Regions from separate parts of the Homo sapiens genome. Here region 2 is linked to region 1. The links come from fine-mapping of genetic effects on gene expression. Tissue or cell type: esophagus mucosa. Region 1 holds a variant in brackets; the other region holds the start of a gene. All regions are shown on one strand. Distances are from middle to middle.

Region 1 (8,103 bases):
TGCTGGGGAAGCGGAAGGGAGAGACAATCGTTAATCGGCTAAATTTCTGCCTTCTGAGAGCTCAGAATCAAGAAATAAATAATAGGGCAGTAAAAGGGGCTGGGATTACATACAAAAAGAAAATTAATGCCTGAACTTTTTACAATCTGCTCGATAAGCTTTAATTCTATTAACCTATTTGAGCTTCCCAACAACAGGCAAGCTCCCACAGCAGCTAGGAGGATCACTTTGTCGTCATACAAATAGAAACAGGCTCAGAGAGGAAGTCATTTGTTCTAGTTCTCACTAGGACAAATCTACTGGCTACTAAAAAAGTGTGAAGGCTGGGGACAGTTTGAGTCGTCCTGCTTGCACCTTAAGCGCCTACAAGAGTGCCCGGCTATAACAACCACAATACCAATAATAAAATTTAAAAACAGATGTTCAGTAAGGACTTGCGGCATTAGGACCCCAGGAGGGAAGTGACGTTCGAGGAGGCGGAGAAAGCCGCGAAGACGGCCTTCCCCACATCTTCCAGCACCTGCGCGCCTGAATCCGTCCCACCCAGGCCCAGACGCAGGCTTCTTCTCGGGTCTTGGTCCTGCATCCTCTCTCTCCCAGAGCCTCCGTTAGGGGGTGGGAAAGGACTTTGCCATAGGTCGCTGAGGCCACCATCTGCTCTCTTACTGGCCAAGGGCGTAAAAAGATAGTCTTCCCATTAGCTAGAGAGCAAACCCCAGAAAGCCTATTGGCTGCGCCGTCCGCGGGCCTTGGTCCGCTTTGAAGGCGGGCTGCGGCTGCGAGAGGAGGGCGGGCGGGAGGCTAGCTGTTGTCGTGGTTGCTCGGAGGCACGTGTGCAGTCCCGGAAGCGGCGAGGGGAAACTGCTCCGCGCGCGCCGCGGGAGGAGGAACCGCCCGGTCCTTTAGGGTCCGGGCCCGGCCGGGCCATGGATTCAATGCCTGAGCCCGCGTCCCGCTGTCTTCTGCTTCTTCCCTTGCTGCTGCTGCTGCTGCTGCTGCTGCCGGCCCCGGAGCTGGGCCCGAGCCAGGCCGGAGCTGAGGAGAACGACTGGGTTCGCCTGCCCAGCAAATGCGAAGGTGAGGAGGCGGGGCCCGTGGGGCGTATCCTGCCGGAGGGGCTGGCTCCAGCGGTGGTGCTTGCGGAGCAGCGTCGGGGGTTGCAAGGTTCCGAGCTCTGCAGGGTGTCTTCCTTCCTTGAACAGGCTTGCGCCGGGACGCTGCGGCGGACGAGAGATCTGGTCCCGGTACCCCTGGAGTTCACACATTGGTAGAAACAAGCAATGATAATTCAGAGTAGTAGATGCCATGATAGGGGAGGTACAGAGCTTCCTTTTGGGGGCCGGACGAGGAGCATCTGGTCTAGCCTGGAGTGGGGGAGGGGGTGGGCGAAGGCTGTGTGCAGAGGGGAGTCAAAGAGGGCTTCATACAGGAAGCACGAAGAGGCATTAGGAGTTAGCCGGATGAAGAGAAGTGGAAAGAGAGGGGCCCACTCAGGAAACTACAGAGGCAGAGGCCTGCCGGCTGAGAAGCTAAGAACGAGTTTGAGGAACTGAAAAGCTCCAGATGACTCATCTTGGGGGAAAAAAACCTAAGACTTTCCCCTTTTGCCCTCACTGCAACCCAATCTGTGTAGTTGTCTGTTGCACCCACTAACAACTCCTCGAAGGCAGGAATTTTTGTCTTAGATACGTATTCACACAGTGTCTGGTAGGCACTCAATAAATGTTTTGAGAATACAGATGATTAAATGGGAGACTGTGGGTGTGTGTGAGGAGGAGGATCTGGATCTGAGGAGCCCTTTGGGGGAACAATAGAGCCTATGGGGAACTTGAAAGAAGATTTTAGGACTTTGGAGAAAAGGTGAGTCCCAAAGACATAGGCGTTGAGGAACTACAGAGAGAGAGAGAGAGGGAGCTACCAGCGAGCCAGGACTATAAAGGACCTATTTCTTTTTCCTCAACTCCGTCCCTTAGTTTTCTCCTCAGACCTTACAGTCATGCCTGCCTTCCTAGCCCCGTAACCCCAGGGCCCCCAGAAAGTTGGCTGTGAATCTCTCATCTGAATTGAAAGCCTACATCAGGCCAGATGTTCCCTAAACACTGGAAAGTGGGTTTGGGGTAAGTTTCGGACACATAATCCTTCCATTAGAGAGATTAAAAGGATGCTTTAGAGATAAGCCGACTTCACTGGTAGGGCACCCAGTATGAGTTCAAGCCTGTGCCTTCCCCCGTACATTCTTTTCTTTTTTTCCTTTTTTTTTTTTATGAGACTGTCTGGCTCTGTTGCCCAGGCTGGAGTGCAGTGGCGAGATCTCGGCTTATTGCAACCTCTGCCTCCTAGGTTCAAACGATTTTCCTGTCTCAGCCTCCTGAGTAGCTGGGATTACAGGCGCATGCCACCATGCCCAGCTAATTTTTGTGTTTTTAGTAGAGATGGGATTTCATCATATTGGTCAGGCTGGTCTTGAACTCCTGACCTCAAGTGATCCACCTGCCTTGGGCTCCCACAGTGCTGGGCTTATAGGCGTGAGCCTCTGCTCCTGGCCGCCCTTTCACTTTTCGCTCTTCCTCTAGTCCTGATAGCTTTTTTTTTTTTTTTTGAGATGGAGTTTCGCTCTTATTGCCCAGGCTGGAATGCAGTGGCGCGATCTTGGCTCACCGCAACCTCCAGTGACCCACCCTCCTCGGCCTTACAAAGTATTGGGATTACAGGCATGAGCCACCGTGCCTGGCCTTTTTTTTTTTTTTGAGACGGAGTCTTGCTCTGCCCAGTCTGGAGTGCAGTGGTGCGACCTTGACTCGCTGCAACCTCCGTCCCCCAGGTTCAAGGATTCTTCTACCTCAGCCTCCCGAGTAGGTGGGACTACAGGTGTGTGCCACCACTCCCGGCTATTTTTAGTAGAGACGGGTTTTCACCATGTTGGCCAGGCTGGTCTTGAACTCCTGAACTCGGGTGATCCACCCACCTTAGCCTCCCAAAGTGCTGGGATTACAGGCGTGAGCCACTGCACCCAGCCCAGCTAACTGATAGCCTTTCAGCGTTTCGCTTCCTCTTCTCTTTCTTTTCTGTCTTATTATTATTATTATTATTTTTTTTTGAGACGGAGTCTTGCTCTGTTGCCCAGGCTGGAGTGCAATGGCACAACCTCGGCTCACTGCAACCTCTGCCTCCAGGGTTCAAGTGATTCTCCTGC[C/T]TCAACCTCCTGAATAGCTGGGATTACAGGCACCTGCCATCATGCCCGGGTAATTTTTGTATTTTTGTAGAGACTGGGTTTCACCATGTTGGCCAGGTTGGTCTTGAACTCCTGACCTCAGGTGATCCTCCCACCTCAGCCTTCCAAATTGCTGGGATTACAGGCATGAGCCTCCGTGCCCAGCCTGTATTCTGTCTTATTCTGATATCAAAGAGCCCATACTCTCCCTCTTATTATTCTCATAGCCTAAGGAGCTCACATTTATTCTCCTTAGGCAACATTCACAGACTCACGGAAGCATAGAGATGCCCAGGATCTCTATATCTCTATATCTAGAGATCATTCTAGTCTACCCTCATTTGGTAACTGATGAAGATTAATTGAAAAGGGATTTGCAGTCACAGGATGGCTTGGCAAACTCCAACCGTTAGGTTCATCTTAATAGTATATTTGTTTGTATTATTATTACACCTTTGTTATTAAATGCTGACTGTGTCTAGCCCACCAAGCCTGCCTCCTGGCTCAGTAGCCTGAGTGGAACAGGCCTCGGCACAGAGGAAGGAGAACCTGCCCGGAAAAAAAGAGTGGGTGGATGTCAGTGAGGGTCTGGTGTCTGTGCCGTGAATCTCCTGTGAGTCTGGTTCTGGGTGGGATCCGCAGAGGAGGTCTTGAAGAGGTAATGTTTGGAAGAGCTGGAAAGCAAGGCTGTGGTTGATGGGTATGAGAGAGAAAGGATGTTCCAAACCTCCCCTTTCCCCACTCCTGGGGAGGGCGTGGGAGGAGGGGCAAGTGGTGCTAGAAAAATGATGTGCCTGCACAGAGTACAGGACAGAAGAGGGGAGGGAGCCCAGATGGTCCTGGATGGAGAGCTGGGGAGGTGAGACATCCCCAGTTCATTGCAGACTTGAAGATCACCAGCTTATTACTTGGAATTTGTATGTGTTTCAAATTCTCCAAGCCATTGATTAATTTCACCAAGCAGGCCTCCAGGGGATGTATTTATTTTTGTGGTAAATTGGTATTCTAGCAGACTGTGCTGTCAGTGTTAAAACTGCTGATGGCATTTAGCCTTCAGACTGGTATTCCATTCAGAGGCATCAGAAGACGGTCTCTATCAACAAGATTTATCGAGCGTCCAGCATATATCAAGTCCCAGGCTAAGGAAATACGAAAAAATCTAATACATAATGCACATTTTGGGGACCCTTGTGGTCTATGTGGAGAGACACATCAAATGACTGAGGGTCCTTAGGGAGAGCATGGATCCTGCAGAGGCCCAGAGTGAAATCTAGAGCAATTGGCATTAGTGCAGAATGGCTTCCTGGGGGAGAGGCTTATAATGCGAGGTGGGCAGGATGGGCAGAGAAGCCCTTAGAAGGCATTAAGTATTTTCCTAGGGCCTCAGGCACTTCACACCCTCGGTGGTAGCACTGTAGCACTCTATACAGTGGTAGTTATTTGTCTACACCTTTATCTGCTGCATTAGACTGAGTATCTGGAAGGGAGGGGACCTTGTTTTCATCTCTGTATCCCCAGGCTGACACGTAGGAGTTGCCTAATACCTATTTGAGGAAGGGTAAGAGGAAATGAGGAAATAAATGTGCGGAGACAGTAGGAACAAGAGCTCTCTGGAGGGCATGGAGCAAATTAACTTGGTAGAAATAGAGCTGATGTTGGAACACATATGAAATCAAGTAATCTAACAACCATAAAAGATGTTTTGGGGACAATTAAGGAAATTTGAATATGGACTACTGGGTGATGTTGGAATTGTTAATTTTCCAAGTATCATAATTGTTCTATGGTTATGTAGGAGGAGGTCTTTTTTCTCAGGAGATACATGATGATATATTTATCTCAAAAGGTCATGTTTGCCACTTACTTTCAAGATGGTGTAGCAAAAGAAATGTATATATTGTTGAGATATTATAATTATATATTGAAGAGAGAATGTGGCAAACTATTAACAACTGTTGAATACAAGTGGAAGGTATTCATTGTGTTCTTTCAGCTTTTCTGTATGTATGCAATTTTAGAAAGTAAAATGATAGACCCTGGCGTGGTGGCTCACGCCTGTAATCCCAGCACTTTGTGAGGCCGAGGTGGGCGGATCGCTTGAGGTCAGGAGTTCAAGACCAGCCTACCCAACAAGATGAAACCTGTCTCTACTAAAAATACAGAATTAGCCGTGCATGGTGGTGCATGCCTGTAATCCCAGCTACTTGGGAGGCTGAGGCAGGAGAATCGCTTGAACCCAGGAGCTGAGATCTCATCATTGTACTCTAGCCTGGGCAACAAGAGCGAAACTCCATCTCAAAAAAAAAAAAGGAATACGAAGAACAATTGCTTAAGGGCAGGATTTACAGTAAGTACATGCTCTTACACAAGAAACAGTAGATAAAATAGAAATCCTAGAGGCATTCCTGAAACTGGGGTTAATCAGAAGTCAACATGGCACATTAGCATCCAAGATGGAGTTGCTTTAGCCTCCACAGGTTCTAACTCCTTCCCTGCCTTGAGTGCTGATTTTGGTCCTCCAGTCTAGGAAAGGATGCCCACCTGGATCTGTTTTGCTGGGAGCTGGCCTCCCATTAGACTCATGTGCACTCAGTGGGCTGTGCTACCTCCCTCCCCCAGTGTGTAAATATGTTGCTGTGGAGCTGAAGTCAGCCTTTGAGGAAACCGGCAAGACCAAGGAGGTGATTGGCACGGGCTATGGCATCCTGGACCAGAAGGCCTCTGGAGTCAAATACACCAAGTCGTAAGTGAATGGGGACTCACTGGCCTGGCCTGCGTTGCTGCTGGAGGCTTCAGGGGTTTGGAGTTCCCTTCTCCTAGCTAGGCAAACCCCCTACAAGGGCATCATTTGTAACCAAGACCTGAGTTTGCCCACTGATTCTGTCCCCAGCTAATTGGGTGACGTGCATAAATCTCTTAACTTCTTTATGCTTCAGCAGATTTCTCATCTCTAAAAGCAAGACTGTTGGACTATATCATTGATTCTCAGACGCTTGGATTTCACAGAGCAATGCAAGTTTTTTTTTGCGACGGAGTTTCACTCTTGTTGCCCAGGCTGGAGTGCAATGGCATGATCTTTGCTCACTGCAACCTCTGCCTCCCGGGTTCAAGAGATTTTCCTGCCTCAGCCTCCCAAGTAGCTGGGATTACAGGCATGTGCCATCACGCCCAGCTAATTTTCTGTATTTTTTTAGTAGAGATGGAGTTTCACCATGTTGGTTAGGCTGGTCTCGAACTCCTGACCTGAGATGATCCGCCTGCCTCGGCCTCCCAAAGTGCTGGGATTACAGGTGTGAGCCACCACACCCGGCCACAGTGCAATTTTTTAAAACATTAGTAACAGGATTACCAGCTTTTTATTTTGCTAGGTACAAATATAGTTTTTAAAAACCCAATTCTGTCAGCTGTGATCATCCTTTCAAAGAGAATGATATTTTACTATCAAAATTTAATAATTTTGCTTTATCAAAAAATCTAAATACTGAATCATTTAGCTTTATAAAAAATTCCTTCCCTTAGAGCTGTTAAAATTTTGTCTCTCTGGTCTGTGTTCCAGCATTTCAGATCCCCCAGACCAGATGACCTATCTTCCTTCCAGCTCTGAGTCACTTCCCATTGGTGAGATGTGCAGGTGTTGGGGCACAGGGCTGGAGGGACAGACCACTAACCCACTGCGGCTAGGAGGGGAACTCAGTTCCTCATCCTCCTGTCTTGGCAGGGACTTGCGGTTAATCGAAGTCACTGAGACCATTTGCAAGAGGCTCCTGGATTATAGCCTGCACAAGGAGAGGACCGGCAGCAATCGATTTGCCAAGGTTGGATTCGGGATTGTCCTTCATCCGCTCTGGGGTCAGGCCTGCATGTATCTTAGTGTGTCTGCTGGTGTGAGTGTGATTTGAAGATGACCACCTGGGATCTTCCTTCATTGCCTCTTCCCATTCTTTGATTGCCGTTTGTGCTCCTCCCCTCTTGAGTGGCCTCATTTTTCAGGCACATGCATGAGGGTCTGGGCCTGTTCATGAGGGTCCTGCTTCAATCTCAGACACAGGCAGAAATGCTCCACAGTTGCTGCCCCCGTGGGAACCTAAAGACACTAGAACGGGGAGAACTCAGCAAGATCCACGATGTGCAGAAAGGTGGGGGTTTAGGCGAGGTGTCAGAGGACACCTCGGTGGGAGTGACTGCCCAGTCCCATCTCTGGGTCCACACAGCACCTCCCACAACCCCGCTGGGATGCCCTTGTGATGGCCCATGTACTCAGTATGTGTACGAGTGCTTTTCTCTCTGGAGAATGAGCTGCTTACAACAAGGCCCATAGTTCTTACTCTCTACATCTTCAGTGCCTGGCACAGGGTAAGATAGTTGCCACCCACATTTTTCTACCTAAGTTTCCTTCTAGCAAAGGATACCATTCATAAACTCCTGGGATACCTAAGGGAATAGTCTCAAGCAGCAGAAATTTGTATGAATTTTGCACTCAGTAATAAATCTGTGTTTGCTTTAATAAAAAGTGTTTAAGAATTATTTTTCATAGCAGGAAAAAAATGAGAAACAATCTAACTCTACCAATAGGGGATTAAATACGTTGATCCAGCCGTTTGGTGGACTAGTATGCGGCTGGAAACGAAGCATGGGGAGGCTCTTTAGGAACTGAATTCAATTGATTTTCAAGGTTTTTGTGTGTTTGTTTGTTTTGGAGACAGAGTCTCACACTCTGTTGCCCAAGCTGGAGCGCAGTGGTGCGATCTCAGTTCATTGCAACCTCCACCTTCCAGATTGAAGCTATTCTCCCACCTCAGCCTCCTGAGTAGCTGGGATTACAGGCACCGACCACCACGCCCGACTAATTTTTGTGTTTTTTAGTAGAAACGGGGTTTCACCATGCTGGCCAG
Region 2 (8,103 bases), 46 kb after region 1:
CACAATCTGTCTGAAATGTTTTTTTTGTTTTTTTTTTTTTTTTTTTTTTTTGAGACGGAGTCTCGCTCTGTCGCCCAGGCTAGAGTGCAGTGGTGCGATCTCGGCTCACTGCAAGCTCCACCTCCCGGGTTCACGCCATTCTCCTGCCTCAGCCTCCCAAGTAGCTGGGACTACAGGCGCCCACCACCACACTCGGCTAATTTTTTTTTTGTATTTTTAGTAGAGACGGGGTTTCACCATGTTAGCCAGGATGCTCTCAATCTCCTGACCTCATGATCCGCCCACCTCGGCCTCCCAAAGTGCTGGGATTACAGACGTGAGCCACAGCACCTAGCCGCAAATGTGGCTTCTTTTAACCAGGGCCTCTGGGGTACTTGGTTCTAAGGCATGGGATAGGAGGAATGTAATGAGGGTGAGAAGCTATCCTCCTTAAAAGGTTAGGTAGCTAACCTGGGTATCTGAAAGTGCCGGTAAAGAACACCGTCATAATTTCCATTAGTGCTGTAGTGGGGAGAAGACACAATTTCGATGTGTAACTCTCTGGCAAATGGAGGCCCAGGCAGCAATGAGCAGCTTCCTTTGTCTTCAGGGGCGATGGAGCCTTCCAAGTACCTCTATTAGAGAAATAACCACCACGTTATAACCTTCTCCTAAGGGGGCAGGCTCTAACCTGTCTCTCAGCAGCCAACATGTCTATTTCCATCCTGTCTTTCCCATAACCACAAGGCTTGTGGAAGGTGGGGCCTGAGGTAGCAGACCTGAAAACCTCTCCCTCTAATGGGTACCAGGAAGAGAATATCACCTCCTATCCCGACTCTGGCTCCAAAAAATTTTCTCAGTAAAGATAACCTTTCTGTGACACTTTCAACTTGGCCCAGAGCCAGTGAAATGGTAAAGACATTTATTCCCACAAGACCTATTAGTGACACCAGGCATCCACAGGGATTAACATTAAGTGGTCATTAGTGGGGAAACTGAATTCAGGCTGTGGGAAAAGCTGAACGGGTTGGTTCAGTCATTGGTTGGTTCAATGAGCTCTACTCTTGAGTACCCCAGTAGTTTTTCCTCCATTCAGGAGGAAACCTACATCCACTCCCTTTCACATGTATTTCACATGTATCTCTACCTGACATCCCAAAGTATTAACTGGTTACTCTAGTACTGCCCAGTAGAACTCTCTACAATGGAATAGTCTATATCTGCATGTGCTATTGAGCACTTGAAATGTGGCTAAAAACAAAACAAAAACAAAGAAATGTAGCTAAAGCAACTAAAAAACATGATTTAGTTTTTTTTTTTTTTTTGAGACTTAGTCTCACTTTGTCGCCCATGATGAAGTGCAGTGGCACAGTCTCGGCTCATTGCAACCTCTTCCTCCTGGGTTCAAATGATTCTCTTTGTGCCTCAGCCTCCTGAGTAGCTGGGACTATAGGCATGTGCACCACCATGCCTGGCTAATTTTTGTGGGTTTTATTTTTTTCTTGAGATGGAGTCTCGCTTGTCACCCAGGCTGGAGTGCAGTGGCACCATCTCGGCTCACTGCAAGCTCCGCCTCCTGGGTTCAAGGGATTCTCCTGCCTCAGCCTCCAGAGTAGCTGGGACGACAGGCATGTGCCACCACACCTAATTTTTTTTTTTTTTGTATTTTTAGTAGAGACGGGGTTTCACCGTGTTAGCCAGGATGGTCTCAATCTCCTGACCTTGTGATCTGCCTGCCTTGGCCTCCCAAAGTGCTGGGATTTAATTTTTGTATTTTTTAAAATAGAGATGGGGTTTCGCCATGTTAGCCAGGCTTACTTTATTTAGTTTTAACTAAATTTAAAAATTTAAAAAGCCACAAAGTGGCTGGTGGCTTCCATATTGGACAGCACCATCTAAACCATATATCTAGGTCCTTAATTAAACACTATACTGTATTTGTCCCCCTAAACACAACTTTCATTTTTTTCTTTTTTTGAGACAGAATCTTGCTCTGTCACCCAGGTTGGAGTGCAGTGGTGTGATCTGGGTTCACTGCAACTGCCACCTCCCAGGTTCAAGCGATTCTCCTGCTTCAGCCTCCCCAGTTGTTGGGTTTACTGGTGTGCACCACCATACTGGGCTGATTTTTGTATTTTTAGTAGAGATGAGGTTTCACCATGTAGGCCAGGCTGGTCTCGAACTCCTGACCTCAAGTGATCTGCCTGGCTCAGCCTCCCAAAGTGCTGGGATTACAGGCATGAGCCACTGCGCCTGGCCTTTTTTTTTTTTACACAATGAAGGTTTATTTTTTTGTCACTCTTATGTCTGTTATGGCGAACTGGTGAGTCTTTACTCAGTAACCCATGGAAATGGAACAACTATTATCTGTTCTACAACTTTCTTCTTGAAGTAAAGGCAGAAACCAAAAACTTTCCTTGGATGTATTTAATAAAATATTAAAACTAAACACCAGGCACCAAAGATAATAAAGACTCCTTTCCTTCAAGGTATTTACAATATATAATTGGGGATTAAACAGATTATGTAATCATAACAAGATAGAATAAAATAAATGCCATAAAAAAGATAGAAAATGCTATAGGAGGAAGTTCTAAATTCGTGGCTGTGAGATCATGAAAGGCTTTGTGATAAAGGTGTCATCTTTAGATGGCTCTTGAGGGAAAGGAGGGTAGGATTTTAACAGATGAGGCTAGAATAATAGGAAACAATTTGAAGTCAAGGATAAGAATGAGCAAAAGCACAGAGACATCATCCTCCATATTATAAAGCACAATACTGAATACATTGTAGCAATTCAATAAACTAATTAGATTGAGTAGATTAACATACACATCTGAAACCTCACTTTTTTTTTTTTTTTTTTTTACACAGAATTTCGCTCTGTCGTCCAGGCTGGAGTGCAGTGGTGTGATCTGGGCTCACTGCAACCTCCACCTCCCAGGTTCAAACAATTCTCCTGCCTCAGCCTCCCAAGTAGCTGGGATTACAGGCATGCACCACCACACCCAAACTTCACCTTTCACCTGAATGGATGAAAGCCTTTTGTATGCCCCACTACATTATGGAGGCTTATGATATTTTGATTACAGAATATGGATCAATAGGCCGGGTGAGGTGGCTCACGCCTGTAATCCCAACACTTTGGGTGGATCACCTGAGGTCAGGAGTTCGAGACCAGCCTGACCAATACGGTGAAACCCCGTCTCTACTAAAAATTACAAAAATTAGCCGGGCGTCGTGGCGCGAGCCAGTAGTAGGAGGCTGAGACAGGAGAATCGCTTGAACCTGGGAGGCGGAGGTTGCAGTAAGCCGAGATCGCATCACCACATTCCAGCCTGGGTGACAGAGCAAGACCCCATCTCAAAAAAAAAAAAAAAAAAAAAAAAAGGAAAGAAAGAAAAAGAAAATAGATAAATGAGGCTAAGAAACATTATGCTTTTTTTTTTTTTTTTTTGAGACAGAGTTTCACTCTTATCGCCCAGGCTGGAGTCCAATGGCGCGATCTTGGCTCACCGCAACCTCCGCCTCCCAGGTTCAAGCGATTCTCCTGCTTCAGCCTCCCAAGTAGCTGGGATTAGAGGCATGCACCACCACGCCCGGCTAATTTTACATTTTTTTAGTAGAGACGGGGTTTCTCCATGTTGGTCAGGCTGGTCTCGAACTCCCGACCCCAAGTGATCCGCTCGCCTCGGCCTCCCAAAGTGCTGGGATTACAGGCGTGAGTCACCGCGCCCGGCTAGAAACATTATGTTCAAAGTCCGGGATGATATGGGGCACGAGTCCTAAATCTTCCAATTTACCTAAGACAGAGAAGAGGGTATAAGAAAGAGGAAGCACTCCTGACCCCAGTCCTTTATCCTACCTGAATTCTGAGCTCTCCCATTTCCAGGGGGTCACAGCCAAGATTAAAAGCCAAAGTGGCAGGGACAAGCGCCAGTCCGTCAGCGAGGGGCTCTCCCAGCGGTCCAGAGCCGGGTCCCAGTCTATCAGAGAGGTCCCAGCGAGGTTCTAGGACCTGCACCCTAGCCAAGTGCGGCTGTGAAGTGTTCGATGACTCTCTGGCCTGGGCCACCCACACCCATTCGCCCTGGAAGAGGCCAAGGCCACGGAGACAGCTCCGGCTCACCCCTAGTGAATCTCCAGTCCCTCCCAGAACTCCCTGGAGTCGCCGCACTGTGCCAGAAACCGCAAAGGAGGACACCACGGGCGGGGGTGGGGGCCGACTGCTGTCCCCAGACTCTGGACACAGTCTGGCCCGCCCGCGGAGCTCAGTCACAGCCAGCCGAGTCCCTGGGCCCAGCAGCCCTTGCAACGCCGGCCGCGTCTCCAGCACCCGCGGTCCGGGCACTGGGAGGGTCTCTCCGCGCCTCACCAGCAGCGGCCCGACTCGCGGTCCGAGCCCAGGCCCCAGCGAGGTGCCAAGCAGTGCCCAACCTAGCGCCGGGGGCCGCCGCACCGCCCGCGCCCGCACCCAGGCCCCGGAGCCCAGTGCCAGGAGCCGCAGCAGCGCGCGGCTAACCAGTAGCTGCGGCGGCCCGGGACCCTGCTCTTCGGTGCCCGCGTCCGGCCCCTCCAGGGCTGCCACCAGCAGCGCCGGCCCTGCCGGGCTCTCCCCTGCAGGCCTCAGGGCCAGCACCAGGCCCAGCTCCGCCGCCGGCCACGGGCCCCCGGGTGGCAGCAGCACTGCCAACGGGGGTGTCTCGGTCGGAAAGGGCTCCAGGACCCGCAAGACAGCCAGCGCCATGGTGACAGGACACCAACGAGGAGGGTGAAGGAGCGCAGCTTCCGGAGCCAGAGAGCCAGACGACTAGTGTGCGCGAGGGCCGCTTCCGCTTCCGTCAGGGGAGGCCAGAGGAAAAGGGGAGGGGGGTCGGGTGCCGCGAACTTGCTCTGAGGGGGTTAGCTGCGCCTCGGATTGATCTGCGTCGTGCCTCGATAGGCAGTAACCTTCATCGCTGCGGTTGCGTAGCGTTTACCCATGCGCCATTTGAACTTGTGCTTAAGGGATTTATCTTTGCCTTCTACGGAAGTAATGTTCTCTTAACTATTTTTCCCCGTGGCATGAACGTAACAGTTTATTGACTGATAAATGAACAGTCAGCATGCTCGGGATGACTGGGCCCAGTACTGGGAGCTCTAGGTGAAATGTTTCGGAAGGAGTCCGCTCCTCTGCGGAGCTCCTGCAGCTTCCCCTGTGGAACTGTGAGCACTGAGGTTTGAGGGTTGCAGGAAAGGTTGCAGGAGGGAGTAGCAGGATTAGAAAACTGTCTCACACTTGCTTATAGGTATATAGTGGCTGCTGAGTGAATTACTAGATGTGATTCATACAGCCCTGGAGTGCTTGGTGCCACCACACATGTTCCAGCACATCTGGCACAAAACCCATGTTCCAGGACTTCTTGCCCTGTTCATTGTTCTGTTTGTTTTACTCCCACCAAACTTAAGTTGAAGACAAAACAGCTTTTCTTTCACCCCCCCCCCCCAAATCCTTGCAGATCGGAAACCCATTCACTTTCTATCCTAGAGCGGGGCAGGCAGCAGAGCAGGCAGAAGGAAAGGAGTTCAAGGCTTCTGTCAGCATAACACCAACAGTCGACTTCCTGCGTGTGCTGTTATTTAGATTCCATCCTTCTCTTCACCTCCACTGTTCTGTACAAGACACTCAGCTAGTGGTAGGCCACATTTCCTTTTTTATGGCAACAGGGTCCTACTCTGTCACCCAGGTTGGAGTACAGTGGCACGATCCCCATTCATTGCAGCTTCTACCGTCCCAGGCTCAAGTGATCTCCCACCTCAGCCTCCCGAGTAACTGTAGCCGGGACCACAGGCACACGCCACCATACCCAGCCAATTTTTTTTTTGAGACGGAGTTTCGGTCTTGTTGCCCAGGCCAGAGTGCAATGGCACGATCTCAGCTCACTGCAATCTCCGCTTCCCAGGTTCAAAGAATCTCCTGCCCCAGCCTCCCAAGTAGCTGAGATTACAGGTGTGTGCCACCACACCCAGCTAATGTTGTATTTTCAGTAGAGACGGGGTTTCACCCTGTTGGTCAGGCTGGTCTCGAACTCCTGGCTTCAAGTGAGCCACCTGCTTACGCCTCCCAAAGTGCTGGGATTACAGGCATGAGCCACTGCGCCTGGACTAATTTTTTATTTTTTGTAGAGACAGAGTTTCTCTGTGTTGCCTAGGCTGGTCTCAAACTCCTGGTCTGAAGAGATCCTCAGGCCTCAGCCTCCCAAAGTGCTGGGACTACAGGCATAAGCCATCATGTCCCACTGCATTTCCAATTATTAACAATTATTTTCACTTACAATAAATGAATTGGATGGTGCCAATCTCCATTTTCTAGACCTTACATTCTCTTTCAGCTACTGCTCAGCTTTCTCCATCTCTCCTTTCTTCTTGAGGCAGTCTTCTATTTTGTACATTATACATTCCTGAAAATTTGAAAGACAAATATATGAAAACTATTAGATTTGCATATTATAAGGGGCTGGGCGCAGTGGCTCATGGCTGTAATCCCAGCACTTTGGGAGGCCAAGTGGGTGGACTGCTTGAGGCCAGGAGTTTGAGACCAGCCTGGCCAACATGGTGAAACCCCGTCTCTACTAAAAATACAAAAATTAGCTGGGTATGGTGGTGTGTGCCTGTAGTCCCAGCTACTCGGGAGGCTGAGGCAGGAGAATGGCGTGAAGCCGGGAGACAGAGCTTGCAGTGAGCCGAGACTGCGCCACTGCACTCCAGCCTGGGTGACAGAGTGAGATTCCGTCTCAAAAAAATAAATAATAGAAAAAAATAAATAAAATAGCATGCAAGAATGTACTAACCAGGAACCATGGCTTGTGTCTATAATCCCAGCTATGGGGAGGCTGAGGCAGAAGGATCACTTGAACCCAGGAATTTGAGGCTATGATTGTGCCACTGCACTCCAAGTGGGTGACAGAGCAAGACCTTGTCTCTTAAAATATATAAAATTAAAAGAAAAAAAAACTAAATAAAGAATGTTCTAGGTACCTAGATTCACATGGATGAAAGTTCCCATTTGGTAGTGCTACTATATGTTTCTTGGTCCCCTATGTCCCAGAGGAACCAAGGGCTAGATAGATGGTACATGGGCCTAAAGAGGATATGCCTGCTTTCCTCAGTAGCAGGCAAGCTCTAGGCCTCAGGACTATAGTGCTCCTTGAGGCCTTGGAGATGGGTAAAAACATCAGTTATCTTGCCTGGATCAGCACTCATACAGACACAAATACCCACCCACAAATAAATGTCCTTTTCTCCCAAGCTTTTCTCCCAGCAGGTAACAGCGGGCATGTAGTCCACTTTGTGTTACCCTGAAATCGTCATTAGTCACCGAAAGCCAAATACTACTTCTGTAAGATCGCCAGGACCCTACATTTGCCATCTTCACTTCCTCACCTCTTGATGCTCACTCTTCCACTCACTAAAAACGGTCTTCCACTCTCTGAAAAAATCACCCATAATCTTCTAATTGCAGAATCAAGATGATGCTGTTCTTTCTCTGACACTACTGACCAATTGTCTTTTATTTCCTTTGCCATTATGACACCAGTTGTCCTCCTACAACTCTGATCACTTCCAGAAATCATCCTCAACTCTTCCCTTTCCGTTACCGTCCCCCCCACAATACAATGAATCACCATATCCTGTTGATTCTACACATTTTCATGCTCCATCCTCTCTTCTCCATCCCCACGGCCACTGTCTTGTAACATTGCTCTCCTGGGTACCTGGGTAAGGGACACAGGTTTTGTGTTTTTTTTTTTTTTTTTCAGATGGAGTCTTGCCCTGTCGCCCAGGCTGGAATGCAATGGTGCGATCTCGGCTCACTGCAAACTCCACCTCCCGGGTTCAATGGATTATCCTGCCTCAGCCTCCTGAGTAGCTGGGATTACAGGCACCCACCGTCATGCCTGGCTAATTTTTGTATTTTTGTAGAGACGGGGTTTTGCCATGTTGGCCAGGCTGGTCCTGAACTCCTGACCTCAGGTGATCCGCCCTCCTCAGTCTCCCAAAGTGCTGGGATTACAGGCGTGAGCCACTGCGCCTGACCTTTTTTTTTTTTAAGACTAAATATTTTATTTTATATAGAATTTTAAA

The links. PIP is the estimated chance that this variant, and not a neighbour inherited with it, causes the effect.
Region 2: it holds the start of PEX6, and the variant in region 1 is fine-mapped to the expression of PEX6 in esophagus mucosa (GTEx, PIP 0.99).

Annotation. Positions count from the first base shown.
Region 1 is chr6:42,928,645-42,936,747 of GRCh38, forward strand. It overlaps CNPY3 (canopy FGF signaling regulator 3), which reads left to right and starts at 836. Exons shown (of 6, transcript NM_006586.5): 1 at 836-1,077; 2 at 5,831-5,954; 3 at 6,930-7,026. The coding sequence starts at 927. It overlaps CNPY3-GNMT (CNPY3-GNMT readthrough), which reads left to right and starts at 836. Exons shown (of 5, transcript NR_134892.2): 1 at 836-1,077. RefSeq lists enhancers at 229-730, 315-364, 375-424, 731-1,232, 875-1,134 and 1 more. The variant C/T (reference allele first, on the strand shown) is at 3,194.
Region 2 is chr6:42,974,425-42,982,527 of GRCh38, forward strand. PEX6 (peroxisomal biogenesis factor 6) reads right to left here and starts at 4,757. Exons shown (of 17, transcript NM_000287.4): 1 at 3,845-4,757; 2 at 451-614. The coding sequence starts at 4,726. LOC124900215 (a long non-coding RNA gene) reads right to left here. Exons shown (of 2, transcript XR_007059580.1): 2 at 6,118-6,419. RefSeq lists enhancers at 4,017-4,958, 5,119-5,168 and silencers at 4,329-4,708, 5,363-5,559, 6,798-7,016.